Homo sapiens: one gene and its partners. The protein of the gene in region 3 purifies or fractionates together with the protein of the main gene of each other region. This does not show direct contact. Each region holds a gene or a part of one and is shown on either strand. Other genes may lie near its edges. The genes, in order: GTPBP4, KPNA3, MECP2 and TRIP12.

Evidence for each region.
Region 1: the proteins of MECP2 (region 3) and GTPBP4 purify together in Homo sapiens (affinity purification with mass spectrometry; 4 studies listed by BioGRID and IntAct, with this or other methods). This does not show direct contact.
Region 2: the proteins of MECP2 (region 3) and KPNA3 purify together in Homo sapiens (affinity purification with mass spectrometry; 4 studies listed by BioGRID and IntAct, with this or other methods). This does not show direct contact.
Region 4: the proteins of MECP2 (region 3) and TRIP12 purify together in Homo sapiens (affinity purification with mass spectrometry; 3 studies listed by BioGRID and IntAct, with this or other methods). This does not show direct contact.

What each region holds. Positions count from the first base shown.
Region 1 is NC_000010.11:998,432-1,005,457, reverse strand, and holds part of GTPBP4 (GTP-binding protein 4), read right to left. Parts: intron 6,456-7,026; coding exon 6,363-6,455; intron 4,782-6,362; coding exon 4,590-4,781; intron 4,511-4,589; coding exon 4,445-4,510; intron 1-4,444. UniProt on the Homo sapiens protein: Involved in the biogenesis of the 60S ribosomal subunit. Acts as a TP53 repressor, preventing TP53 stabilization and cell cycle arrest.
Region 2 is NC_000013.11:49,705,675-49,712,700, reverse strand, and holds part of KPNA3 (importin subunit alpha-4), read left to right. Parts: intron 1-1,678; coding exon 1,679-1,810; intron 1,811-3,000; coding exon 3,001-3,129; intron 3,130-6,328; coding exon 6,329-6,433; intron 6,434-6,531; coding exon 6,532-6,603; intron 6,604-6,917; coding exon 6,918-7,026. UniProt on the Homo sapiens protein: Functions in nuclear protein import as an adapter protein for nuclear receptor KPNB1. Binds specifically and directly to substrates containing either a simple or bipartite NLS motif.
Region 3 is NC_000023.11:154,031,711-154,038,736, reverse strand, and holds part of MECP2 (methyl-CpG-binding protein 2), read left to right. Parts: intron 1-1,875; exon of another isoform or gene 1,876-4,813; intron 4,814-6,179; coding exon 6,180-6,530; intron 6,531-7,026. UniProt on the Homo sapiens protein: Chromosomal protein that binds to methylated DNA. It can bind specifically to a single methyl-CpG pair. It is not influenced by sequences flanking the methyl-CpGs.
Region 4 is NC_000002.12:229,856,005-229,863,030, reverse strand, and holds part of TRIP12 (E3 ubiquitin-protein ligase TRIP12), read left to right. Parts: intron 1-2,499; coding exon 2,500-2,625; intron 2,626-3,456; coding exon 3,457-4,259; intron 4,260-7,026. UniProt on the Homo sapiens protein: E3 ubiquitin-protein ligase involved in ubiquitin fusion degradation (UFD) pathway and regulation of DNA repair.

The DNA of each region.
Region 1 (7,026 bases), on a different chromosome or scaffold from region 3:
AAGAAAACACCAGGGGCCAGGCGCGGTGGCTCATGCCTGTAATCCCAGCCTTTGGGAGGCCGAGGCGGGTGGATCATGAGGTCAGGAGGTCAAGGTCACCCTGGCTAACATGGTGAAACCCTGTCTCTGCTAAAAATATAAAAAATTAGCCAGGCGTGGTGGCGGCCGCCTGTAGTCCCAGCTACTCGGGAGGCTGAGGCAGGAGAATGGTGTGAACCTGGGAGGTGGAGCTTGCATTGAGCAGAGATCACGCCACTGCACTCCAGCCTGGGGGACAGAGCGAGACTCCGTCTTAAAACAAACAAACAAACAAACAAACCAAAAAAAACACACTGGGCCGCCAGCAACCCACCCTACAGCTGGGATGCAACGGGACCCAGGAGGAGGTTCTCCCTACGGTGAGGGGGTAAGCAAGAGGATGGCAGCAGCCCTGCCACCACTCTGGACACCCACAGCCCTCACCACCGGAGCCCCCTGGCATCCTCACAGCTGTGCTCCCACACAGAAGGAGCTGACACTGGGCCCTGTCTGTTGGGCCCATGGGGCGGCTATACTCCATCATCTTGGGACTGGAACTGCGGCTGGAGTATGTCTTGCTCAGGGGAAGTGGCCACAGCTCCCCTTCATCCCTGAGGCTAAACTGCCTCCAAACTACCCAAACCTGGTGGCCCAACATCCCCAAGCCAGCTGTGAGCAGCTGCTACCCCTTCCCAGCAGGGCTTGGTGGAGGTGGAGCCCCTCTACTAGCCCTTGCTCTAGCACCCAACGGTACCCTGCCTCCTGGTAAATAGCACCGTGGCCTCTCAGGGAACGTTGTCTCCCTGCTGCCTGAGCTGAAGCAGTGCCCTGCTTCCTGGGAAATGCCCAGAATGGTCACATATCCCAGCGTCTATGCTGAAGAGGTACCTTGTATCCCAGGGCAACGGTGCCTGGGGCGCCCAGAAGAGTCACAACCCTCAGGCCCAGGCTGACCAGCCACATACCATGGGGAGGAGCTGACATTGTACTCCACACCCCAGGGAAACAGGGCAGGGGCTGAGCCGAGGCACCTGCCCCACCACGCAAACAGCTCCAGCACCTGCTCCCTGGAGCTGGACTAACCCTATATTCTGAGCTGCAGAGTCACCACTCTTTCCAGGAAATGGAGTCACTGCTGTCCTCCTCCCTGTCCTCTAGGGCCCAAATGACAGCTGGACTAGTCCATTCTGGGGTCCTTGCTGCCACCTCACCTAGCATCAGAGAGTCTGGGATACTGCTGGGCCCCACCATCCCAGGGTCCAGAGTTCCCCTTGAGCTGACACTAAGCCCTCCCTACTGGCTCAGGTTTCTGAAGTACAGCTCTACCCTGCTTCCCAGGCTCAAACCTCCAGAGTGCGTCTTCCCTGGAGTCAGGCCAGGACTGTGCCCTGACCCCACGGGTGGAGCCACAGCCACAGCCTTGCCCTGTGGGCTTAAGCTGCTAGGGGTGCTTCAGGATCAGAGATCCACCACAGAGAGTAAACCTGCACCCCAAGGCCAGGCCATGATAGGCACACAAGACCCTAAGGCTAGGACCCCAGTCCCACAGCTACCCTGAGTACCTGTAGCTGAAACCCAGCACTGTGGCAGCTGCTTGCAGACCATGTCAGACCTGACACCAAGAAAGATCCCCTCAGATAAGTCCCCCATTGCGGGAAAAACAAGAATAGCAGGACCCCAAAAGCCCCTGACACCAAGGACCTTAAAAACATACACCACCGCTGGCACAAACTTCCAGAGCTGAGGCCACTGAGCCACCCAGTTATTGCCAACATTTCATGGAGGTGAGGAAGCTGCACAGAAACAATGTCACTGCTCCTATCCAGAAAGTCACGGTTCTCTTCCCAAATGGCACAGTAAAACCCAAGTGAGGTGAAAACCTCTCCATGAAAGCCACTCTAGAAGAAAGTATAAAAGAGGCTCCTGTTCTACCAGATGCAGAGACATCAATGCAGGGACACAAGAAACATGAAAAAGCAAGGAAATAAGAAATCATGAAAGGAATATTAACTCTCTAGGAACAGACTCTAATGAAAAGGAAATCAATGAATTGCCAGAAAGAGAATTCAAAATAATAATTTTTTTGAAGGAAACTCAATGAGAAACAAAATACAGATAGATAATTCAACAAAATCAAGAAAACAATTTCATGATATGAACAAGAACTTAAACTGAGACAGAAATTGTAAAAAAGAGTCAAACAGAAATCCTGTAGCTGAAGAATTCAATGGATGAGATAATACAATAGACAGTTTTAACAGCACACTGGATGAAGCAGAAAAAAAATCTCTGTCATTTGAAACTACCTAGTCAGAGAGAAAAAAAGCAGGAAGAACGAAAAAGAATGAAGGAAGCCTATAAGATTTATGGGACAACATTAAGTGAATACATGCTGGCATTATGGGAGTTCAAGAAGGAGAAGAGAAGGGAAAAGGCTTAGTAACCTATTTAATGAGATAGCTGAAAACTTTCCAAGACTGGGGAGAGGTATAGACATCTAAAACCAGGAAGTTCAAGAATTCCCAAATAGAGTCAGCCCAGAAAGGTCTTCCCCAAGGCACATTATAGTCAAACTGTCAAAAGTCAAATATAAAGGAAATTCTAAAAACAGCTAGAGAAAAGCTTGAAGTCACATATAAGAAAATCCCCATTAGACTAACAGCAGATTTCTTTGCAGAAACCTTGCACGCCAGGAGACAATGGGATGATATATATTCAAAGTGTTGAAGAAAAAAAAGAAGACTGCCAGCCAACTATATTACATCCAGCAAAGCTATCCTTCAGAAATAAGGGAGAAATAAATTCTTTCCGAGAAAAGCAAAAACAGAGAATTCGTCACTACTAGACCAGCCTTACAAGATATACTTAAGAAAGTCCTACATCTGGAAGCGAAGACAATAATCACTATCATGAAAACATGAAAAAGTATCCAAGAAATTCACTTAACCTGTAAAGACATTAAGACACACATAGACTGAAAATGAAGAGATGCAAAAAGATATTCTACGCAGATGGAAACTAAAAGCAAGTAGGAATAGCTATACTTCTATCAGATAAAGCAGATTTTAAGTCAAAAACAATAAAAAGAGACAAGAAGGTCATTATATAATAATAAAAGGGGTCAATAATATTTGGGGACATCAACATCAGACTCGCAACATTAGACAGATCCTAGGCAAAAAAGAATCAACAAATACTGGATTTAAAGTGCACTGTAGGCCAGGCGCAGTGGCTCACGCCTATAATCCCAACACTCTGGGAGGCCAAGGTGGGCGGATCACTTGAGGTCATAAATTCAAGACCAGCCTGGCCGGTATGGTAAAACCCTCTCTACTAAAAATACAAAAAATTAGCTCGGTGTGGTGGCGCACGCCTGTAATCCCAGCTACTCAGGAGGCTGAGGCAGGAGAATCACTTGAACCTCAGAGGTGGAGGCTGCACTGAGCCGAGACCGTGCCACTGCACTCCAGCCTCAGTGACAGAGCGAGACTCCATCTCAAAAAAAAAACAAAAATAAAATAAAAAAAAAAGTGCACTGTAGACCAAACATCTACAGAACATGTCATCCAACCGCTGCATAAAACACATTCCTCTCCTCAGTCCATGAAACATTCTCCAGGATAGACCATATGTTAGGCCACAAAACAAATCTCATCAATTTTTAAAAATTGCCAAGTATCTTTTCAGACCACAGTGGAATAAAACTAGAAATCAATACCAAGAGATACTTTCAAAACTGTAAAAAAAAAAAAAAAAACCACCCATGAGAATTATAAACATGTCCCAGAATGACCAATGGATCAATGAGGAAATTAAGGAAGAAATTAAGAAGGTGATGCTGACATTGCTGGGCCAGGACCACAATTTGAAAGCCACTCCACCAGTGCACGCTTCTAAAAGCATTTATCATGAAGGATGCCTATTAAAAAGGTTGTAGGATTCAATCAGTTTGAAAAATTATGTCCAACAATACTGCCTGCCTCTTGGAGAAAGCTAGCAGGCACGTCTCACTCATAGATCCAGATCCAGAAAGCCCAAATTCCAAGATCCTCCTTCTCCTTCACTCAATCATTAGTCTCCAAACTCATTTAATCACAGAACCTGTTTTATGAAGTAACACCTGTGAGCACCCTTCTCCAACAGTTCTCTCCTAAGTAATCACATTTTCCAAAAGTCCAACCCATCAAATACAGATGCTTCCACACACTCAAGAACAAAGAATCCAGAAACTTATGTTTTCGTTTTAGTTTGCCAATAACTAAGTTTTTATTATGTCTTTTCACTAAACCACTGAGGATATTATCTCAACTATAAAATACAATTGTGGACTAGTATTGCTAAAATTCCTTCATCTAAACTTTGGTTGTCTGAGATGAGAATTCAGAATTGGTAAGTAAGAAATATTCAAAATATTAACGTGATTTACCTGATCATCTTCAGAAAGTTCAGCTATTCTCTTCACATCACATTTGTTGGCTACAACTATGAGAGGCTAGGCAAGGAAGAAAAATAATGAAATCATTATTCTCGTACTGCAGGATATGAAGCAAAACATGAGTGACCACACACACCTTGTTGATGAAGAGAGGTCTGATGTTCTGGAAGAGTTCTAGCTGCTCCCTCAGCCCATGCCCACACTGCTCAGACAAATCCATCACATACAGGACCGCAGCACGGAGGTGGGCCAGGGCAGTGATGGCCTGCATCTCGATGGTGTTCCTATCCTCCAGAGGGTGGTCCAGGATCCCAGGAGTGTCTACAACCTAACACAGCCAGACCTTGTCACTGAAAGCACACTCACCCACAAGCTTCTTGTCCAGCACATCCCAGAAGTCACTCACACACACCCAACCAGACCTAATAATCTTACAGCAGAATTGTAGTTAAAAAAAAAAAAAAGTAGGGCTGGGTGCGGTGGCTCACACCTGTAATCCCAGCACTCTGGGAGGCCGAGGCGGGTGGATCACGAGGTCAGGAGATCGAGACCATCCTGGCTCACACGGCAAAACCCCATCTCTACTAAAAGTACAAAAAATTAGCTGGGCGTGGTGGCGGGCACCTGTAGTCCCAGCTACTCGGGAGGCTGAGGTAGGAGAATGGCGTGAACCAGGGAGGCGGAGCTTGCAGTGAGCCAAGATAGCGACACTGCACTCCAGCCTGGGTGACAGAGACTCCATCTCAAAAAAAAAAAAAAAAAAAAAAAAGTAGGTCTCCCAAACTGAATACCACAAAATAAACCAGTGACAGAAAAGTACATACTATTTAAACATCAAAAAAGGGAGGAGGAACCCTGTAGAGCTCAAAGAAATGCTAGCCATGATGTTGAGAGAAATGACTCCTCTTTTTACCAGCGACATCATAAAACACAAAAACTGGGATAACTGAGAACCCTCCCATGTCTTAGGAATTACTTTCTTCACAATTTACAAAATTAGAGTGTGGAAACATTGCTTCTTGCTTTGTATTTATTTATTTTTTTTGAGACAGAGTTTCGCTCCTGTCGCCCAGGCTGGAGTGCAATGGCACAATCTCGGCTCACTGCAACCCCTGTCTTCTGGGTTCAAGCGATTCTCCAGCCTCAGCCTTCCAAGTAGCTGGGATTACAGGCACCCACCACCACGTCCAGCTAATTTTTGTATTTTTAGTAGAGATGGGGTTTCGCCATGTTGGCCAGGCCAATCTCGAACTTCTGACCTCAGGTTAGCTGCCTGCCTTGGCCTCCCAAAGTGTTGGGATTACAGGCGTGAATCACTGTGCCCAGCCTGCTTCACGCTTTTAAACTGTATATATGCCATTTCTGATAACAGAGTTAGAAATGACACAAAGATAATTTCATTTTATGTTAAGAAAATGCAGAAATCCACACTGGCAGCTGGCTGCCTCCCCTGAATTATATCAGAGACATGCGACCTGTTCTTATGCATCCCAAGAGCTCAGATGAGTTTTCTTTATGATGATGGAGAAATTTCAAGTTCTTGATAAACCAAGATATTTGTTCTGTTTAAAGACAAGACTCTTGCCAGGTGCAGTGTGACTCACACCTGTAATCCTAGCACTTTGGGAGGCCAAGGCGGGCAGATCACCTGAAGTCAGGAGTTCAAGACCAGCCTGGCCAACATGGTGAAACCCCCTCTCTACTAAAAAAACACAAAAATTGGCCGGTCGTGGTGGTGTGCACCTGTAATCCCTGCTACTCGAAAGGCTGAGGCAGGAGAATCACTTGAACCTGGGAGGTGAAGGTTGCAGTGGACTGAGATCATGCCACTGCACTCCAGCCTGGGCAACAAGAGTGAAACTCCAACTCAAAATAAATAAATGAATAAAAATAAAGACAAGACTCTCACCTGCCAACGTAGATACTTATAATCCATGTGCCCAACAAACAGAGACTTGGTTGTGAACGCATAGGGCTGGACATCCACGTCTGCTCTCGTCACCTGGAACAAGTGAGAACTTTCAGAATCACCTCATTTCCTCTGTGTACACGTGGGATCTGTGTGTTTTAACAAGACTGATTTTGGGTAGGAAATAACCATAGAAGAAACCTCACACGATAAAACTGCATCGAATAGGAGCCTGGTACCTCTCCCTTTGCACCACCAGGCCAAGGACTGGGGTACTAGGACAGCGTGAGGGCTGGCATTTGGAGGACAGCCACCACCTCCCCTCACCCTCCCAAGTCCTGCCCCACCGCCTGCAATGCCCGCAGAGCTCTTTATGATGACAGGCATGTTCTGTCTGCACTGTCCAAACCGGGCCACCAGTCATGCACTGCTAATGAACTTTCAGTATGTGGCTCATGTGACTGAGGAGTTGAAATTTTCATTTTGCTGAATTAAACTGCAATTTAAAAAGCCACCCAGTGCAGTGGCCACCAAATCGGCCACAGAGCACTGGCTCAGAGCTCAGGGCAGGTTCAGAGCTGACAAGCATTTGAAAAATCAGCAAGGACCCTGCAGAGCTTTGCTGGTCACCATGTCACAGCAACCTGTAGACAAAATAAAACTC
Region 2 (7,026 bases), on a different chromosome or scaffold from region 3:
ATTCTATTTTCTCTTCTTGCCTCAACCTCCCATTTTTTAATCTGATTCTAGACTTATCTATTTTGCCAAATTTGGAACATATTTCTTCATATTTTTTTCAGCTCCGCCTTTCCTTGTAGGGTCTCTGAAGACACAAATATTAGATCTATTGTTATTGTGCTGGAAGTTCCTGAGAGTTAATTTCTGTTTAATCTTTTTTTTTTTCTGTTATTCAGTTTGGATGATTTCTATTGATGTATCTTTGGGTTCATTTATTTTTTTTTCCCCCTTCTATCATGTCGGGTTTTTTTGCTGAGAATTCCCACTTTAAATTTGTTTCAAATGTGTTCATAATTGTTCACCAGTGCATTTTTATGATAGTTACTTTAAAATCTTATCAAGTCCTTGTCAGATAATTCCAATATGTGTGTCATCTCAATATTGGCATCTGTTGACTGTCTTTTCTCTTTTGAGAATTTCCTGGATCTTGGTATGAAGGGTTATTTTCCATTGTAGCCTACACATATTGGTGTTATGCTTTGAGACCCCTGTTTCTAGGTAAATCTAGTTACTGTTACTGCCAGGGTGGGCAGTAGCCAGACTTTGTTCTCAGACCCAGCATCTGCAGACACCTCCAGCAGGGAGGCCTCCTCACTTCCAGAGTGGGAAATGGGCTGGTAGGTGGGCTCAGCTCTTAGGCCCAGCTTCTGTCCTCTCTTTTACACAGTCTTGAGGCAAGAGGTCCAGACAAAAGCTAGAATTTAATTTTTTCTCCTCTTACAGATAATGGAAATTTTTAGTGTTCTCTGACTCTTAGTAATGCTGAAGGGGTGTGGGTTATATGTGTAGTTCTATTTTATTTATTCATCTATATCCTTTTTTGAAGGGTATGTGAATTCAGGTGCCTGCTATTATTTTAGGGCAAAAAGATGTGATGTCTTCAATTTGGATGACCTAATAGGAAACATCTTGATTTTGCATAAGCTACAACCAGTGCTTATATTCCTCTGTGACGACACCAAGCAATGCCACATACAAGATCTTTGACCTTGAATGAATCACCAGATCGCTAAGCCTGTTTTCTTCTATGTAGTTGCAAAGTTAGGATAGGCCTAGGGCATGGTTTATACTCCAGGTTTATACTTCAGTTGGGGACACATTTCAGGAGATTTTCAAACAGTTTTTTCCCCAGATGAAGTTAAAGTGCCAAGTCATTTCTTTTATTGGTTTACTTTAGTAGCCTGAAAAATTGTATTGCTAAATATGTTGGAAAACCAGTAGAGTAAATAGATGACCTTTCTGTTCTCTTCTGAACTTGAAACAGTATGGTGTGTTGGCCTCATTCTTGTAAATAGTGTTTTTCTGTGGGATTATTAGGTAGCTAATTTGTGAGGGCAGGGAGAATTACTTTTCTGCCTGTTTTTAAATTCATCTGTCTGATACATAAATGCAGAAGTTGGAATAGAAGTTTTCCCAGACTTCTGTGTCTCATTTTCTGTGAAGAATGATCTGAGGTAGGCACTGAAAGAAAGATAAGGTACTTTCTACTTAATAGATTAATCAGCTAAGCAGATATTTTTGCCACTAAGCTAAAACTTGAAATTTGGTTACTTTTTCTGTCACTACTCCTGAGGTGTGTTGAACAAGTAAAGCATTCAAACAAATATGTAAAATGGTTTTTCTTTTGTGTTTCCTGTAGATTCTTGTAGACACTGTTTGGGCTCTGTCATACTTGACAGATGGAGGTAATGAACAGATACAGATGGTTATTGATTCAGGAGTTGTGCCCTTTCTTGTGCCCCTTCTGAGCCATCAGGAAGTCAAAGTTCAAGTAAGTATTTTTAAATTTTTCTTATTTGTATACAGTTGTGTTTGCTATAACCAGTTAACTTGTACAGCTAGGCTTTAATTCTATCTGTAAGTGCTTATCTTCCACATTTCTTCTGCTAGTCCCTGAGCCTGATTTTGTTGATTTCCAAATCTTTATCTCACCCAGTTTCTTTGCTGAGTTCCACACTTGTATAGCCAATTGTTCTTGACCCTTTATACATATCATCTAAGAACTCCTTCAAGCTTTCCGTGGTTAACTAGACAGAAATGAAACGATCATCTCCCACAAACCTGCTCTTCTTCCTTGTCTACCTTCAGTGAACAGCATGGCCTAAGCTAGAAATTTTGATTCCTCCTTGCAATTCCCATTCCATTACAAAATCATTTCAATTCTTCTTATATAGGTTCAAATCTGTCTCTCCTTATCTATCTAGAACAACAGATTTAGTTCAAGACTCTATCTTTCCCCCAAATAATTGCAATAACCTAATTGCATTTCTTCTTTCTCTCTCCCACTCTAATTAGGGGTAGGCACTTATTAGATCTGTTCATCCTGCTTTACCAAAGTGACTTTCTAGGTGGAAGTGTGTGCCCATTCCAGGCGTTTATTAAAATATTATATATATTTTTGAGATGGAGTCTTGTTCTGTCGCCCAAGCTGGAGTATGGTGGCGCGATCTCTGCTCACCGCAGCCTCTGCCTCTCAGGTTCAAGTGATTCTCCTGCCTCAGCCTTCAGAGTAGCTGGGATTACAGGCATGCACCATCACACCAGCTAATTTTTGTATTTCTAGTAGAGATGGAGTTTCACTATGTTGCCCAGGCTGGTCTTAAACTCCTGACCTCAGGTGATCCCCCCCGCCTCGGCCTCCCAAAATGCTGGGATTATAGGCATGAGCCACCATGCCCAGCCTTAAGAAACTGGACTTCTTCTAAAATTTTAATTTCCTTTTATTTTTTGAATCTTTTTCCAACCAATTTTCACACAATTTTTTTTTTTCATAAAGTTTCAGTTTTTCACAAGAGACTATTTAAAATTCAGAATAGCTCTCAGACTGCTTGGTGCTTTGTGAAAGGATGAAATAAGTGTTATTTATGCCTTGCATTTTTACTTTTTCTCAGGATTATGAAAAATATAGAATTAGTCTTATAAGCAAATAAATTTATAGAAAACATTTTATCCCCACCCTAGACAGCAGCCCTCAGAGCAGTTGGCAACATAGTGACTGGCACCGACGAGCAGACCCAGGTTGTTCTCAATTGTGATGTCCTGTCACACTTCCCAAATCTCTTATCACACCCAAAAGAGAAGATAAATAAGGTAAGGCATATAATGTCCTCATTATGCTATTTCTTTCTGTGTCTCATTTTTAACTGTCTCCTTGTTTCTATTGCTACTTGTATGTTTTTCTTAAAAGCCACTGCAGCGAAGATGAGAATTATTTTAAATCACCTCTGCAAATGTTTTTCTTCAACTTTTTTTTTTTTTTTTTTGAGACAGAGTCTGTCTGTTGCCTAGGCTGGAGTGCAGTGGCACGATCTCGGCTCACTGCAACCTCTGCCTCCTGGGTTCAAGCGATTCTCCTGCCTCAGCCTCCCGAGAAGCTGGGACTACAGGTGCCCGCCACCACGCCCAGCTAATTTTTGTATTTTTAGTAGAGATGGGGTTTCACCATATTGGCCAGGCTGGTCTCGAACTCCTGACCTTGTGATCCGCCTGCTTCAGCCCCACAAAGTGCTGAGATTACAGGCGTGAGCCACCGCGCCCAGCCTTTTTCAACTTTTAATCGCTTCTGGTAGGTGCTGCCCTGGTCATCACAGAGTAAAAAACATTTTTAGACTACCTGTGTTTCTATTTAAGTAGACTGAGCATAGCAACAATCATTAAATTAGTAGCCGCTTGAAAGTGCAGACAAAATCTGCCATTTGAATGGGCTGGTATTTTTTTAAACAAACCGATCATAAAAATTTTGATCTCCCAGCAAAATTAGTTTGGACCCAAAGACGAGGTGCCTAAATTCAAGGATCATAAAAAATTACTCTTTTTAAGATTTCAAGCTTCATAGACAAGTTTATTATTAATTGTGTAATATGTACTTACTAGTATGTAATAAGTCTTCATGCCTGGCTTATTTCATCTAGCATGTTTTCAAGGTTCATTCATTTTGCAGCATGTGTCAGAACTTTATTCTTTCTATGGCTGAATAAATATTCCATTGTATGTATACACCACATTTTGTTTTTACATTCTTCTGTTGATGGACACTTCGGTTGTTTCCACCTTTTCACTATTACGAAGAATGCTGCAGTGAACATTGGCATACAAATACCTATTTGAGTTCCCGCTTTCAATTTCTTTGGATATATAACTGCAAGTAGAATTGCTCGATCATATGTTAATTCTGGGTTTAGCTTTTTGAGGAACCACCAAACCGTTTTCCATTGCAGCTGCACTGTTTTACATTCCCACCAGCAGTGTTACTAGAATTCTAATTTCTCCACATCCTAGCCAACGTTTATTTTCTGTTAAAAAAAATTACTGACAATCCTAGTAGATGTGAAGTGGTGTCTCATTGTGGTTTAAATTTACGTTTAGTTGGCCAGGCATGGTGGCTCATGCCTGTAATCCCAGCACTTTGGGAGGCCGAGGCGGGCAGATCACGAGGTCAGGAGATTGAGACCATCCTGGCTAACACAGTGAAACCCCGTCTCTACTAAAATTACAAAAAATTAGCCGGGTGTGGTAGCAGACGCCTGTAGTCCCAACTACTCAGGAGGCTGAGGCAGGAGAATGGCATGAACCCAGGAGGTGGAGTTTGCAGTGAGCCAAGTTTGTGCCACTGCACTCCAGCCTGGGCGACAGAGCAAGACTCTGTCTCAAAAAAAAAAAAAAAGGAAAAAAGAAAAAGAAATAAATTTACATTTAGTTTACTAAAGTTTTATCTGCCTAATATACTACCATCACCCAAACCCAGCAGAACTGATCATTTCTTCTTCGTCATCATAACTATATTTGTATAGTTGCTTGAGTATAATTTGACTGTTGGGTTCTTATAGAAAAGTATGGTGTCAAAAAACACATTTTATAGATACATTTGTTCCAGTGAAGACAAAGAAGCCAGAGACTTTCAGACTCTGGGCCAGTTACTTTTACTAAAGAAATTTTTAACAATATAGGTGATTTTTTTTTTTTTAGCTAAATGAATATATTCCATAATTGGAAACAACTGAGAAGTGAGGAAGCTGGGCAGAAGTCAGCAGAGAAAGGTTCCGGCCTGTGATGTAGTATGCTTTTAAGTGAGGGTATCGTGGGGGGTAGAGGAAAATTTCATAGAAATGCCATCTCAACTTCAGCAAGCAATTAGTTACTTCAAAAATTTTTTGCCTTGAAAATTTGTTACTTGCATTTTGAGACTATCATAGGACCCTGGAAGTAGAAGTTACCAACTTGATTTTCTTCCCTCAGCATTTCTGTTTGAAACTTTTTAAATCTACAAAAAATGTGCAAGAATAGTATAGTGAACACCCATGTACTCTAAACACAGATTCAGCAATTATTAACAACTTACCACAGTTGGATGGCAAAACAAATTCATTTGTGGAAGAGGAAGATACACATGTGATACTAACCTGTAAACAGCTCACAGACGTGTTTATGACTTATAAATCCCTTAGTTTTAGAATATTTATGTTATATAGACCCATGCTAGACTAGTTAGATGGTTAATTTTTATGGAATACTTGAATGACTATATCTTGTGAGTAAATATTTTTTAAAATTAAAAAAGAAATCACCTTTATTAGAAGTAGTTTTTAAGTAGTTTTAGAAATTCAGTTGTATAGTGGCTGGGCGCGGTGGCTCATGCCTGTAATCTCAGCACTTTGGGAGGCCTAGGCGGGTGGATCACGAGGTCAGGAGATCGAGACCATCCTGGCTAACACGGTGAAACCCCGTCTCTACTAAAAATAGAAGAAAATTAGCTGGGCGTGGTGACAGGTGCCTGTAGTCCCAGCTACTCGGGAGACTGAGGCAGGAGAATGGCGTGAACCCGGGAGGCGGAGCTTGCAGTGAGCCGAGATCACGCCACTGCACTCCAACCTGGGCGACAGAGCAAGACTCCGTCTCAAAAAAAAAAAGAAAAGAAAAAAGAAATTCAGTTGTATATTTATTTCTGTCTTTTAGAGGAAGCTAATGCACAGACATGTAAGCTCCATGAATAAAGATTTCTGTTTTGTTCATTTCTATAAAATCACCATTTCCTAGAATAATGCCTAGCTTATAGTAGGCCTATATATTAATGAATGGATAAATGCCAGGTTATTGGAGCCCAAATATAATTAATGGAAATTTCCTTATAACTTGTTTAAAATGGAAGATTTTGTATACCTAATCACTTTTTAGGTGCAGTCTCTTTAACGTAATTCAGGTGATTTTGTTATTGTCTATATAAAATATATTAGAAAGACATTAAAGGTATTATTTTTCAAATAAAGGTGCCCTATATTTTGTTCAATTATAGGAAGCAGTGTGGTTCCTTTCCAACATAACAGCAGGCAACCAGCAACAAGTTCAAGCTGTAATAGATGCTGGATTAATTCCTATGATAATTCATCAGCTTGCTAAGGTTGGTCATATTATGAGTTCACCGTGTCTGTTAATCTGTTAATAACCAAGACTTTTTGGATAAAGAGTCCATTTTATGATCTCATTTTTAACCTTCAGGGGGACTTTGGAACACAAAAAGAAGCTGCTTGGGCAATCAGCAACTTAACAATAAGTGGCAGAAAAGATCAGGTGAGTTTGAAAACCTGTAACTGTCATGATTGTTAATACTGGAAAGCATGCTGCTCTCTTATGTTTCGTAGTTGCTGACTGTATTGTGTTCTTTTTGGGGAAAAGATAATTATTATTATTTTAAGAGATGGAGTCTCACTATGTTGCCCAGGCTAGAGTGCAGTTGCTATTCACAGGCATGACCATAACGCACTACAGCCTCCAACTCCTGGGCTCAAGATAGCCTCCTGCCTCAGCCTTCCATGTAGCACGACACCCTACTGGGAAATAGATAATTATATAAATAAAAATATTTCTTCTCTTTTGTTGTCTAGGTTGAGTACCTTGTACAGCAGAATGTAATACCACCGTTCTGTAATTTACTGTCAGTGAAAGATTCTCAAGTGGTTCAGGTGGTTCTAGATGGTCTAAAAAACATTCTGA
Region 3 (7,026 bases):
ACTTGTGAACTAGCTATTTAGTTCTCCTCATAATCAAGATTGTGTGTGTGTGGGGGGTTCTGATTAGAGGGAGGATGAAGAGAGGTGTATGGGGTTTTTTTTGTTTTGTTTTCTGTTTGTTTGTTTGTTTTTGAGATGGAGTCTCACTCTGTCACCCAGGCTGGAGTGCAGTGGCACGATTTCGGTTCACTGCAACCTCTGCCTCCTGGGTTCAAGTGATTCTCCTGCCTCAGCCTCCTGAGTAACTGGGATTACAGGCATGCACCACCATGCCCAGCTAATTTTTGTATTTTTAATAGAGATGGGGTTTTCGCCATGTTGGCCAGGCTGGTCTCGAACTCCTGACCTCAGGTGATCCACCTGCCTCGGCCTCCCAAAGTGCTGGGATTATAGGCATGAGCCACCACACCTGGCAGGTTTCTTTGAAAAAGTTTGTGTTTCGGCAAACACCATAAACCCCCTGGGGGACAGCCTTGGGGAGTCACCTGGCACCCTAGCCCAGCCTCCCTCCCTTGGGTCCTGCAGTGAAGGCTTAGTGAGGGTGTGCAAATGCCCAGGTCACCCTGGGACTGGGCAGGCCCTCTGGGCTAAGGGTAAACTCATTTGGAATACCTGTTTTCTATCATTGTTTTTTATTTGTTAAATTTAAAGGGTACAAGTGCAGTTTTGTTGCGTGGATATATTGTATAGTAGTGAAGTCTGAGCTTTCAGTGTAACCATCACCTGAATAGTGGACATTGTACCCGTTAAGTAATGTCTCATCCCTCACCCCCTCCCACCCTTCCCAGTCTCTCCAGTGTCTGCCATTCCTCACTCTGTCCATGTGCACATGCTATTCAGCTCCTGCTTCTAAGTGAGAACGTACGGTATTTGACTTTCTGTGTCTGAGCTGTGTCACTGAAGACAATGGACTCCAGCTCCATCCACGTTTTTTATCATTTTTACCTGCACTCCACACCCAGCACAATCCAGGCTTCTTTGTGGGTTTTTTGAAATTTGTCTTTAATTATAAAAGTAGCAGCCAGCAAATTAACAAACACCCATGTGCCTTTCATTGCACAGAATTGAAAATCATCATACTATATTTGCTTCAAGTAATTTCCATTAGAAAGAACTAGAATATTACAGTAGAGTTAAAGACCCTTTATTTCCCATCTTCAGTGCTCTTAAAAGTTCATTTAGGGCCAGGCATGGTGGCTCACACCTATAATCCCAGCACTTTGAGAGGCCCAGGTGGGTGGATCACCTGAGGTCAGGAGTTCAAGACCAGCCTGGCCAACATGGCGAAACCCCATCTCTACTAAAAATACAAAAATTAGCTGGGCGTGGTGGTGCGCATCTGTAATCTCAGCTACTCGGGAGGCTGAGGCAGGAGAATCGCTTGAACTCAGGAGGGAGGCAGAGCCTGTATGCAGTAAGCCGAGATTGCGCCACCACACCCCAGCATGGGTGACAGAGCAAGACTCCGTCTCAAAAAAAAAAAAAAAAAAGTTCATTCATTGTACACTTAGAAATAGTTAAAAAGGTAAACTTTGTTTTGTGTGTGTGTGTATATATATATATATATATATATATATATATATATATATATATGTATTTTTTTTTGAGACATATATGTGTCTGGTTTGTTCGCCCAGGCAGGAGTGCAGTGGCATGATCAACGGCTCACTGCAGCCTCAACTTCCTAGGCTCAAGTGATCCTCCTGCCTCAGCCTCCCGAGTAGCTAGGATTACAGGCACACACCACCATGCCCAGCTAATTTTTTTTTTTTTTTTTTTTTTTTGTAGAGACAGGGTTTTGCTATGTTGCCCAGGCTGGTCTCAAACTCCTGAGCTCAAGCGATCCACCTGCCTCACCTCCCAAAGTGCTGGGATTACAAGTGTAAGCCACCACACCTGACCTGTTTTGTATATTTTACCACAATAAAAAGCCTTTAAAACCCCAAGCAGACAGTTCATTTTCATTCAGGCCCAACTCAGAATCTGATCACAGCGGGGTTTCCCCCCTTTCTAGCGAGTAGCTGAAGAACTGTTTTCTCTCCTTGATGGTATAACTGTCTCTGTGGGTGTTGCTCCCCTGCCGCTCCAGTGGTTTTGTTTTTGTTTTTGTTTTTTTGAGACGGAGTCTTGCGATCTCAGCTCACTGCGACCTCTGCCTCCTGGGTTCAGGCGATTCTTCTCCCTCAGCCTTCCATGTAGCTGGGACTTACAGGCACCTGCCACCACGCCCGGCTCATTTTTGTATTTTTAGTAGAGACGGAGTTTCACCATGTTGGCCAGGTTGGGCTCGAACTCCAGACCTCAGGTGATCCACCTGCCTCAGCCTCCCACAGTGCTGGGATTACAGGTGAGAGCCACTGCACCCAGCCGGCCCCTCAGTCTTTTCCTTCTCAATCAGTGGCACCACCATCTTCCCAGGCTTTGGACATGGTCCCTGACTCACCCTTGCCCCTCACCCCCACACTAATCCACCTGCGAGCTCTGTTGCTTCACCACCTAGACCAGCCCCAAATCCTCAACTGCCCCCACCCTGGGCCACACCTGGACCACTGCTAGAGGCCTCTCATGGGCCCTCCCTGTTTTTCTCTTGCACTCCCCGGGCTTTCTGGCACAAGATGCCCCAGAAGCAGAATCACATATCTCTCCTGGGAGCCAATCTAGTGTGTTTACTGCCCCTGGAGTGTTATTGTTGGCCTTAGAATATGTCCCACTACAGGTTTGCAGAGCACTGTAGTCAAAAGTCATTTGAAATAAATCTTTTCTCTGTGGTATATTGTCAATTTGATATAGAATTAAATTTGTTTCTTTTCTTTTTTCTTTTCTTTTTTTTTTTTTTTAAGAGACAGGGTCTTGGCCAGGCGTGGTGTCTCATGCCTGTAATCCCGGCACTTTGGGAAGCCAAGGTGGGTGGATCGCCTGAGGTCAGGAATTCAAGACCAACCTGGCCAGCATGGTGAAACCCCGTCTCTGCTAAAAATACAAAAATTAGCCGGGCGTGATGGCAGGTACCTGTAATCCCAGCTACTCGGGAAGCTGAGGCAGGAGAAGGCTTGAACTCAGGAGTCGGAGGTTGCAGTGAGCCAAGATCACGCCATGGCACTCTAGCAAGACTCTGTCTCAAAAAAAAAAAAAGAGAGAGAGAGAGACAGGGTCTTGCTCTGTCACTCAGGCTGGAGTGCAGTGATGTAGTCATGGCTCACTGCAGCCTCATACTCCTGACCTCAGGTGATCGACCCGCCTCGGCCTCCCAAAGTGCTGGGATCGTAGGCTGAAGCCACCATGCCTGGCCCGAACTCATTTGTTTTTATTTGCATTAAGTGTAATAAGGTTTTGTTACTTTTAGTTTGAATTTTATTTTGGGTAATATAAACATTTACATGATTCAGAAGTCAGAATTACACTGAGGCATGTTCAGCTAGGCCTCACTCCTGTGCCTGTACCCTTACCTTTTTCCCCCTACCCCATGCAGGGAATCAATTTCATTAGTTCCTGGTGTGTCCTTCCTTAATACCCCCCCTTCTTTCTTTGGTAGAATGCAGTAGATATGTTTGCGCTTTGCTCCCTTTGCTTCACAGTGGATCCTGGAAATGACTCCATCGCAGTTCTTAGAGCTCTTGTTTAGTCCCTTTGGATCTGCACAGTACTCCAGTGTGTGGGCGCACCATAAGTTTATTCAGCAAGTGCCCTGGTGATAGGGATCGGGGGTATTGGAAGCCTTTGGCTGGTAAAAATAATGTTGTAGCAAATAACATCATGCATATGTTCTTTGAGATTTCTGGAGGTGTCTCTTTAGCATAGATTTCTAGAAGGCATTCCTTACGTCACGTTTAGGTTTATAGTTTGACCTCATGGTGATTAAGGTATTTGGGAAATGCAAATGAGAGTTTCGAAGAAGCCAGATCTTTCCCATTAGTTCACTGTTTTTCTCTGACATTAGGACCGTCCGGGTTCTAGGGAGCAGCCCTGGCGTTAGGCAGTGCCATGATGGATTGTGTAGAAGTAGCGATTCCCATCTGTCTGCTTTCTTGGCCCACTCTGCTGGTGGCTCCCCTTCCCTCCCTCCTTTATGGGGAGCTGGGGAGCTGCCTAGGGGTCCATTCTCAAAGGCTGATCTCTGGTGGGCAACAGGCCACACCTAGCTTTCCAGGGTTCTTCGTCATTTCCCATTGAGAGCTGTAAGACTCAGAGACATGAAAAGGAAGCTCTGGCTGGGCACGGTGGCTCACGCCTGTAATCCCAGCACTTTGGGAGGCTGAGGCGGGTCGATCACCTGAGGTCAGGAGTTCGAGACCAGCCTGCCCAACATGGTGAAACCCCGTCTCCACTAAACATACAAAAATTAGCCTGGCGTGGTAGCACACGCCTGTGATCCCAGCTACTCCGGAGGCTGAGGCAGGAGAATAACTTGAACCCGGCAGGCGGAGGTTGCGATGAGCCGATATTATGCCATCGGCAACAGAGCGAGACTCCATCTCAAAAAAAAAACAAAAAACAAAACAAGGCGAGCTCTGTGCTGGGACAGATTAGGGACCCCTCTTTACAGCAAGAAAGACTGCTCTGTGGGTTGTAGGATGCCTTTGTGTATGCAGTGGCTCTAGGTGACTCTGGCAGCCACACTCTGGGCCCTAAACTTCTGGAGGAAGATACAGGATAGGGAGGAACTCAGGGGTGAGTCATGGTGGGGACAAGACATTCCCTCACTCTAAGACCTTGTCACTAGATTGGAACATCTCTTGCCTCCCTACACCTGACCTGATGGTTCTGGAGAGATACGTCCTTGCAGCTTCTGAGTCCCAGCACTAAGCAGCCTTTGGTAACTTCCCTACATCATTTGAGTTCTGGTTTCCTAAGGATGCTTGCCAGTGAGTGCCATGGTGCCCTCATTGCACAGTCTGTGCAGTGTAGACAAGAGGGGAAGTCTCTTGGGGTAGACCAGCCGCAAGGCGGTGACTAGCACTGATGTGAACCACATGGGACAGGGGAGTTGTGGGGCTGAGAACACGGAGGGTGGGAGTAGTCATGCTCTTTTCCAGAATGAACTGCTAACGAAGGGACTCGCAGGTGGCTGCTGCTTCTTTCCAAGCTGCCCCTGTTGTTGCAGAGGCTCTGGAGTCCTAGGAGGTTTCACGGTGGCATACTCGACAGAGTACTAGAGCATCATGGCCAGATAGTGATGCTGGGGTGTGGGGCCTCACGGTGGCCATTTCTGACGAGACCCCACCGGGCCAAAGTGATGTGTAGAGAAGGAGCTGCTTCGGTCACCAGAAAAGAACGGGGAAGCCTCCCACACTAGAATAGGTAGGGTGCTCTTCTCCACCGGCAGGAAGGGGATGTATGGCTCTGCCTGGACCACACCTTTTTCCTTGCTCTTCCCTCCGCATCTGCTGTGGCCGAGGCCATTCCTCATCAGGGAACATGTGTTAGAGGCTCACGCCACCTGGGACCACTTGTCTTATCACCCCCAGGACCCTAGGCGGTAGTTTCCTGTGGCCTGAGTTAGCTGATATTTATATAGTGCCATTGTGCCTTTTCTCCTGTGATGCTCACAGTAAGGATGCCTAGATGGGGTTACCTGTTGTCAAGATAAGGAAACTGAAGCACAGAATGCTGAGGTCATTTGCTGGGTTCATGTTTGGAAAGCGGCAAAGGATTTCAGTGCAGGTTGGCTGGCTCCAAACCTGTGTGTGCTTTCCATGACACTGTACTGTGTGCCTCATTGAGCCTCATTCTAGAAAACCAAAAACACACCCAAGGCCCGGCCTTCACAAAGGAGACCCCTCCCCCATTTGGCTCCCTTTCCAGCAGTCGACGGCCTCTTGTCAGCCATCGAGCCCAGAGTCCCTTGAAGTGCGACTCATGCTGGGGTGGTATGCTCAGGAGCCGCAGTGTTTCCGCTCAGAGGAAAGGGCTCTGATTCTCCTGCAGTGCTAGGAGACTTGTGGGTGGCCACAGTGCAGGTCAGGCACACCGGCCAGCACCACCCACAGCCCAAATTCCTAAAGAAATATTTGGGTCCCAGCTTGGCCCGAGTCTCTGTTGTCCTGGGGAAGGACATCAAGATCTGAGTGTATGATGGCCTGGGGCCTTGCATGTGGTGGGGGTCCAAGCCTGCCTCTGCTCACTTGTTCTGCAGACTGGCATGTTCTCTGTGATACTTACATACTTGTTTAACACTTCAGGGAAGAAAAGTCAGAAGACCAGGACCTCCAGGGCCTCAAGGACAAACCCCTCAAGTTTAAAAAGGTGAAGAAAGATAAGAAAGAAGAGAAAGAGGGCAAGCATGAGCCCGTGCAGCCATCAGCCCACCACTCTGCTGAGCCCGCAGAGGCAGGCAAAGCAGAGACATCAGAAGGGTCAGGCTCCGCCCCGGCTGTGCCGGAAGCTTCTGCCTCCCCCAAACAGCGGCGCTCCATCATCCGTGACCGGGGACCCATGTATGATGACCCCACCCTGCCTGAAGGCTGGACACGGAAGCTTAAGCAAAGGAAATCTGGCCGCTCTGCTGGGAAGTATGATGTGTATTTGATCAAGTAAGTAAGAGCAACTCCTATCTCTACAGGGCAGGGAGGGCAGGGACAAGGATCCCTCATGGAGCAGGAAAATGTATGTGCCCAGGGTGGGGTCGGGGGGAACATAAACAATGAACACTGAGACCAGGTGTGCTTGAAATGACCGTGTACAGAGGTCGCTGCCCTGAGTGGGAAGTTCTCAAGGTAGCAGGCCCTCTATCCTCTCCACACCTCAAGTCTTTATCTGGGGATGGAATAGCTGCGGAAGCAGAGGAACTTGCAGAGCTAGGGGTTCAGAGGGGTGAAGAAGCATGTTTCAGTTCTGCCTTTTAAATGATCCCAAAAAGGTTAGCAGTTTTCAAATGACATTTGCAGACAGCCTCATTTAATTCCATGAGAAGGGTGAGCAAAGGATTATCTTGTTGAAACTGATTCCTGGAGAGACTGAGCACCGTACCTGAGTTCAAACTTGGGAATGTTCTAGATGGTGACTCAGGCCCAGGCACCAACCAGCAGA
Region 4 (7,026 bases), on a different chromosome or scaffold from region 3:
GTCTTGAACTCCTGACCTCATGACACATCCGCCTCTGTCTCCCAAAGTGCTGGGATTACAGGCATGAGCCACCGTGCCCTGCTGGGCATTGCTGAATTTAAGCCAGTTTTGTGAGCCTTGGTTTTCTAAATGATTTGAATACTGTTTACTTTTTGTGGTATAATATAGAGAGTTTACATGCTAAGTTCTTAAGTTCATTGAAGGTATTAGTAAGGGCATGAGAAATAACACAGGAGTAGAATTAGGTGGATCTAACATAAGCTATATAAAAGTCAACAGAACAATTTATTTGAGTTAAAAAGAGGAGGGCTGCTGCCCCAGACCTCACCTTTAGTTTCATATGGGCCGGTTTCTGATGACAAATGGAATGAATCATAATTTTTAATTGTTTTGGGCATTTATTTTTCACAAAGTTGTCTAGCTTTGAATGTATGTAGTTTTCTTTCAGAATGAGTTGTTTAATTATCAAGGAATGCAACAAGCTATATTTTAAATTTTAAAATGAAATAAAGTAGAAAACGTGATTTAATTAAAACATCAGTCTGCAACGATCTTTAAGAAAATAAGAATGTAGAGGACCTGAATGACATAATTTATATTTCCTGTAGCTGTTAAATTCCACACCCCAAAAACAGAACGTTACACCTCTTTTTTAGAATAACTATGGAATGATTTGAAAAATAGTCTCATTTCTGAAGAAAAAAGAGTTGAACTCTGAGATCTGTTAGTAGAAATATAACAAAAACAAAAGCAACTCTTAGAAATTAAATCTCTAATAAACTCATTGGTTAAAGCAAAATTTTAGTCTGCAATGGGAGAATATCTAGGAAAAATTAAAATTAAATCACAATATATACAAGGCAGGAAAATCACATGATCCTGGGAGGCGGAGGTTGCAGTGAGCCGAGATAGTGTCGCTGCACTCCAGCCTGGGCGATAGAGCAAAACCCTGTCTGAAACACCAAAAAATAAAAAATAACAACAACAACAACAAAAACACAATGTATAAAAAATCTTACAAAGTTCAGCTTAGCTACAACTTTAGAAAATATGCTTCTTGAAGTATATGTGTCCTTTCATTACTAAAAGTGAAGACTAATAACACTTGAAAGGCTCACCTAGAGTTTTGTTTTTTTGTTATTTTTTTTTAAGAAATTCATCTATTCTAATAAGTCTTTAGAACATATTATTACTTTCAGATTAGAACCTTAAAAACAAAAATGATATGAGGGATCCAGGAACTATTTCCTTTCTTAAGAAGCTAATTTCTTACCTTCTTTTAAGACTCTTTTCATGAATTCTGGAAAGATGGAAGAAGAAGTGATACAGAAAAGAGAAACCTTAGGTCCTCTTTTGGAACAGATGGTTGTACTTGTATGATATCTTAAGAAATTTATGGCATCCTTACAGATTGAGTTAGAATTATTTTGTGAGATTTTCAGTGACTCATTTCTAAGTTCTTTTGAGATGGTGTTTGGAATAAAAGCCTTAAACTTTTTTTTAACAAGTAAATTTGGTATTAATGAAACTTTTTTCTAGATTTTCATTGGTATATGCTCTTATGTGGAAAGTGGATATCAGCTATGAATTACATAAATTGCATTTGTTACATTAATATCTCACCCGAATGGCAGCAGTTTTCTGGATATCAACATGTGTTTGTTTTTTATTGCTTATGTAAATCTCATGTAACCATTCCCCAAGGTCTAAAAAATAATCTAACTGAAAACAGTTTTTTCATGTTCCTCAAACTTGCTTTTAGAATAGTGCTGGCATAAGGATTTGATTTATTGTAAATATGATGCACCATATCAATCATGGAATTATTTGAATGTTTTTTGGAACTTTTGTGGTAAATTCCATATTTCTCCAGGACTTTTTTGTGTTCTTTCTGTTGACAAGTACTTTAAAGTTTTAGCAAGTATCACTATGTTGATTTCATGTAGGTTTATTTATTGTTTAGTGCTTGAAATGATTTTCTGTGTAAAATCAGTTTGAGAATTGGTTCGTCTGTCTCTGCATTTGCTGTGTTTACCTGAATTTTAAGTACAAATTGGAAATCGGTATCAGTGTGGGAATCATCAATTGTCTTTTCCGTAAACTTTTAAAGCCATTACAGTCACATTATGTATTAAAAGTGTGTTTAGATCTAAAGTCTAAATTTGCTTTTTGTTAAAATGTAGCATATTTGAATATCTGCACTAAAATTGCTGAAAAATGTGTTACTGCTTAAGCAACCTTAACAACGCTGTGCAATTATGACTACTGGTGATAATAAACTCTTCGGTATTGCGGGGCGGGGGTGGTTCTGAGAGGCAATTTCTTTTTGCCAGATTATTTAGTAGAATAATAATTAAAATTTATAAATATTTGGAAAAAGGGTAGGGTCAACAATGAATTGTGGGAAGCTTTAAGAAATATATAAAAATATTTCATTTTCAGTATTGTATTTGCATCTCAGTTTCCTGATAGATTTCTGTTTTGATTTTCTGCTGACAGGTCACATTTAGGGCAGGCAAAACATAAGGGATATAGCCCTCCTGAGAGTAGAAAATCTAATTCTAAGGCACCCAAAGTGCAGTCTAATACTACTTCTGAACTGTCAAGGGGACACCTTTCTAAAAGGTAAATCTTCATGTTGCTTATACATTTTCAAGGCAGAATTATTTGCATTCAAATCATTGCATAATGTTAAAACTTGAGGTTATTCCAAAACGTTTTGATACATATTTTCATTATTCTCTAAGTAACTTTTAGGATTGACAGTTTATCACCTTTGCAGTGATTAGTGCAGTATACCCTAGACAGTGAGTTTGTCAATGATAAAATGATATTTTTGTTTGGAGAGCCGTAAGATTCCCCCTTTGCTTAACAAACCATTATGGCCATTTTTTATTTCTTTTTATTTTTTAATCTTTTTTTTAGTTTTTATTGTCAGAGCCATAGTTTAGGTTTAAGTCAGTGATTCTTAAGATTTAATTGTTAAGAGACTTTGGAAAGCAATGTTAACTTTGAAGATTTGATAGTACTACAATATAAAAATCTCTAACCTTCATTTTGAAAGTGCGTATGTTAATGCTTATTTCTTCTAAGCTTTGACAAAGCAGTTGTGCTTGTGAATAGGGCATCAATATTCTGGCTTCCTCTGGTTCCGAACAATTAAGTGTTGTTTTTCTTGTAATCTTAATTCTTGTTTTGTGATTACGAGTGTTAGTGTCAGTAATCTTTGGGCTAAAGAACACCCTTATCTTTTAATCAGATATTTTAGTATCCAAAGTCACATCTGCTTTTGTTTTGTTCTTTTATTTCGTTTTACAGATTTGAACCTTCTGAAAACCTATGTTTAATACTGGACTTAGTAGGAACATATTCATACTTTATTTTTTGAAAGCATTATATATGACAGTTGTAATTATGACAGGCTGATATTAACTGTTTTCTTATCTAACCTCTTAGAAGCTGCAGTTCATCATCTGCTGTGATAGTTCCACAACCAGAGGATCCAGACAGAGCCAATACTTCAGAAAGACAAAAAACGGGGCAGGTGCCTAAGAAAGACAATTCTCGAGGAGTGAAGCGCAGTGCTAGTCCAGACTACAACAGGACCAATTCTCCTAGCTCTGCAAAAAAACCAAAAGCACTTCAGCATACTGAATCTCCCTCAGAAACAAATAAGCCACATAGTAAGTCAAAGAAGAGACATTTAGACCAGGAGCAACAACTGAAATCTGCACAATCACCATCAACAAGCAAGGCTCATACCAGGAAGAGTGGGGCCACTGGCGGTTCACGGAGTCAGAAAAGAAAAAGGACAGAGAGTTCTTGTGTAAAGAGTGGCTCCGGGTCTGAATCAACTGGTGCAGAAGAGAGATCTGCGAAACCTACCAAGCTGGCTTCAAAATCAGCCACCTCAGCCAAAGCTGGGTGTAGCACCATCACTGATTCTTCTTCTGCTGCCTCTACTTCCTCCTCGTCTTCTGCTGTAGCCTCGGCCTCCTCCACTGTACCACCAGGTGCCAGAGTGAAACAAGGAAAAGATCAGAACAAGGCCAGGCGTTCCCGTTCAGCGTCCAGTCCCAGCCCCAGAAGAAGTAGCAGGGAAAAGGAACAGAGTAAAACTGGTGGCTCTTCAAAATTTGATTGGGCTGCTCGTTTCAGCCCTAAAGTTAGCCTTCCTAAAACAAAACTGTCTCTTCCAGGGTCTTCTAAGTCAGAGACATCAAAACCTGGACCTTCTGGATTACAGGCCAAATTAGCAAGTAAGTTTACAAAAAGGTATTTTTCTTTAATTAAAGAAAGTTTCTCTTGGTTTGTCAAAAGCAATTATGCTTTAAAGTTAAGGGTTTTTTCCCCCCAGTCTTAGATAATCTTAGATGTATTACTGTCTGTGTAATTAAGTACATAACAGCATGTAGTAAGTGCTACTACATTTAGTTTTGTTGAGACAGGTAAGGAATACTACCTTCCTATTATTACGAAACCATCACATTTTAGTGTCTGTGTCTTTATTGGTCCTCGCGGCATCTCCTACTTCACTGATTTCCTAATATCAGGATGGGACATAAAGTTGGATTTTCTTCTATACCACATACAAAATTATCATTTAGTTAGGAGTTCTTTTTAGTTATGAGTTGCCATGATCAGAGATCAAATATATATATGTTTTTTTAGATGGAGTCTCACTCTGTCGCCTAGGCTGGAGTGCAGTGGCGCAGTCTCGGCTCACTGCAACCTCCGCCTCCTGGGCTTAAGCAATCCTCTTGCCTTGGCCTCCAGAGTAACTGGGATTACAAGTGTGCACACCATGCCTGGGTAATTTTTGTGTTTTTAGTAGAGATGGGGTTTCACTGTGTTGGCCACGTTGGTCTCAAACTTCTGACCTCAAGTGATCTGCTCACCTCGGCCTCCCAAAGTGTGGGGATTACAGGTGTGAGCTACCATGCCTGGCCAAATATATTTTTTTATATGAGATATTCTTGATGTGTAGATACAGTGAATTAAGTTATTACTATAAATATACCTCAATGTAAATTAAACTTTTTCATATGTAATATCTCACAGTCTTTTAAGGAGTTTTGTCTAAAGATGAATACTACTTATGTTTCACTACTCTTATATACACTACTCTGTGTCCTAAGTGAGTAAGAATATTGCTCTCTAAAAGTTTACAGTGGAGTAGAAAGAATTTGTGTTTTGAGAATACATTCAAGCAAAGAAACAGAAAGTAGATGGAAGAAACATAGCGTTATGTGCATTCCTTCATGAGTCAGTTTTGGAGATATCCAGGAACTCTTCTCCCTCTCTCTTTACCAAAAGACTTCTTCAGGGAACCAGCTGCTCATCTGGGGAATGCTAGTGTCTTTCTTTTCTTTCCTCCCTTCTTTTTTTTTTTTGAGACAGAGTCTCACTCTGTTGCCCAGGATGGAGTAGTGGTGTGAGTGGTACGATCTTGGCTCACTGCAACCTCCACCTCCTGGGTTCAAGCAATTCTCCTGTCTCAGCCTCTCCTGAGTAGCTGAGATTACAAGTGTGCGCCATCACACCCAGCTAATTTTTGTATTTTTAGTAGAGAGGGAGTTTCACCATGTTGGTCAGGCTGGTCTTGAACTGGGACAAGTGATCCACCTGTCCCAGCCTCCCAAAGTGTTGGGATTATAAGTGTGAGCCACTGTGCCCAGGCTTCTTTCCTTATTTCTATTTCAGAAACCTATAAAGGACAAATAGGATAATAAAGCACTTATCTCTACAATTTTTAAAAGCATTTTAATTTTATAATACCTAATTAGGAAGCTTGCTTTTAAGCATCTTTTCTTCTCTGATGGATTTTAGATCTACATTTGGGTAGGGCTATAATGTTTTCTTGGTTTAAAAAGATTGTATATAGTGTCTACTAGCATTCTTGTCAAAGTATAGCTCATATTGAATCAGCCTAACTTAAAATTGAATCAGAACTATTAGCTCTGTTTAATTTAACACTGCAGTCTAAAACTACTTTTGGTTGATTCACATATTACCTGAAATGACAATACTATTAATAGTAGGTACTATATAAAAAATTTTATGTTTAACCTGTATGATAGGTTATTGTGAAGTAACATATTTTACTTTTAGATTGAACTTTGTTCTGTTTTGGTATTTTAAATATGCAGAACATCTGTATAAAATGTTTTAAGTTTAAAGGATTAAGATAGGCTAGATCAGTATCTTGAAGTGAGAAGGAAAAAAAGGTCCAAGTTAAAAGGACAACCAACTATTTGTCCTTCCAATGCTTTATTGATAATTGGAGTTACATATGTCAGCTTTTATGCTGCCTTTCCTCCCTGTGTTTTGTGTCTGTCAGTCCTGCTATGTAATATTCACAGCCAGTGAGCCAGGTTGAGTTTACAGCAAGCTGCTTAGGATTCACTTCCCCTTCTGCCTTCCAGTCTGCCTCACTTGAAGAACTCATCTCTTATGTGTAGGAGGGTTCTAGGGCCAGGCAATAGCAGATTGTACTTGAGTGTCATGGCCTTGGTCCTTTGTAGAGATCAGCTTTCTTTTCTTTATATAGTCTGTTAACTTGATTTTTAAAAGAAAACCCAACTCTACCAGTGGCTAATCAGTGGGATTTTCTCCTTGGTGTTTCAATCAGGAAACACCAAGAGTTTTGGCAGTGTCATTTTGCTGCTGGTTTGATAAAACCAATCCAGATAATTCCATTAAGCCTGCTCAGCACATAGTCACAAACTAATTTAGTATTTTAAAACTCATTTCACCATTATTTCATTCACTTGCACAGTATCTGTGTTCTGTTGTCACTATTAAATCACTTTTCCGTTTTCACTGCCACTATCCCAGTTCTGATCTCTCATCGTAGCCTAAGCTGTTGAAACAAGAGAATGGAACCAGCGTTTGTGTAGCATAAAATAAGTACCAGGTATTTTACATATGCAGTTACATATTCTTTTAAAAAAAATGGTGCTTTAGGATACACTTTTTTTTTTTTTTTTCTGAGACAGAGTCTTGCTGTATTACCCAGGCTGGAGT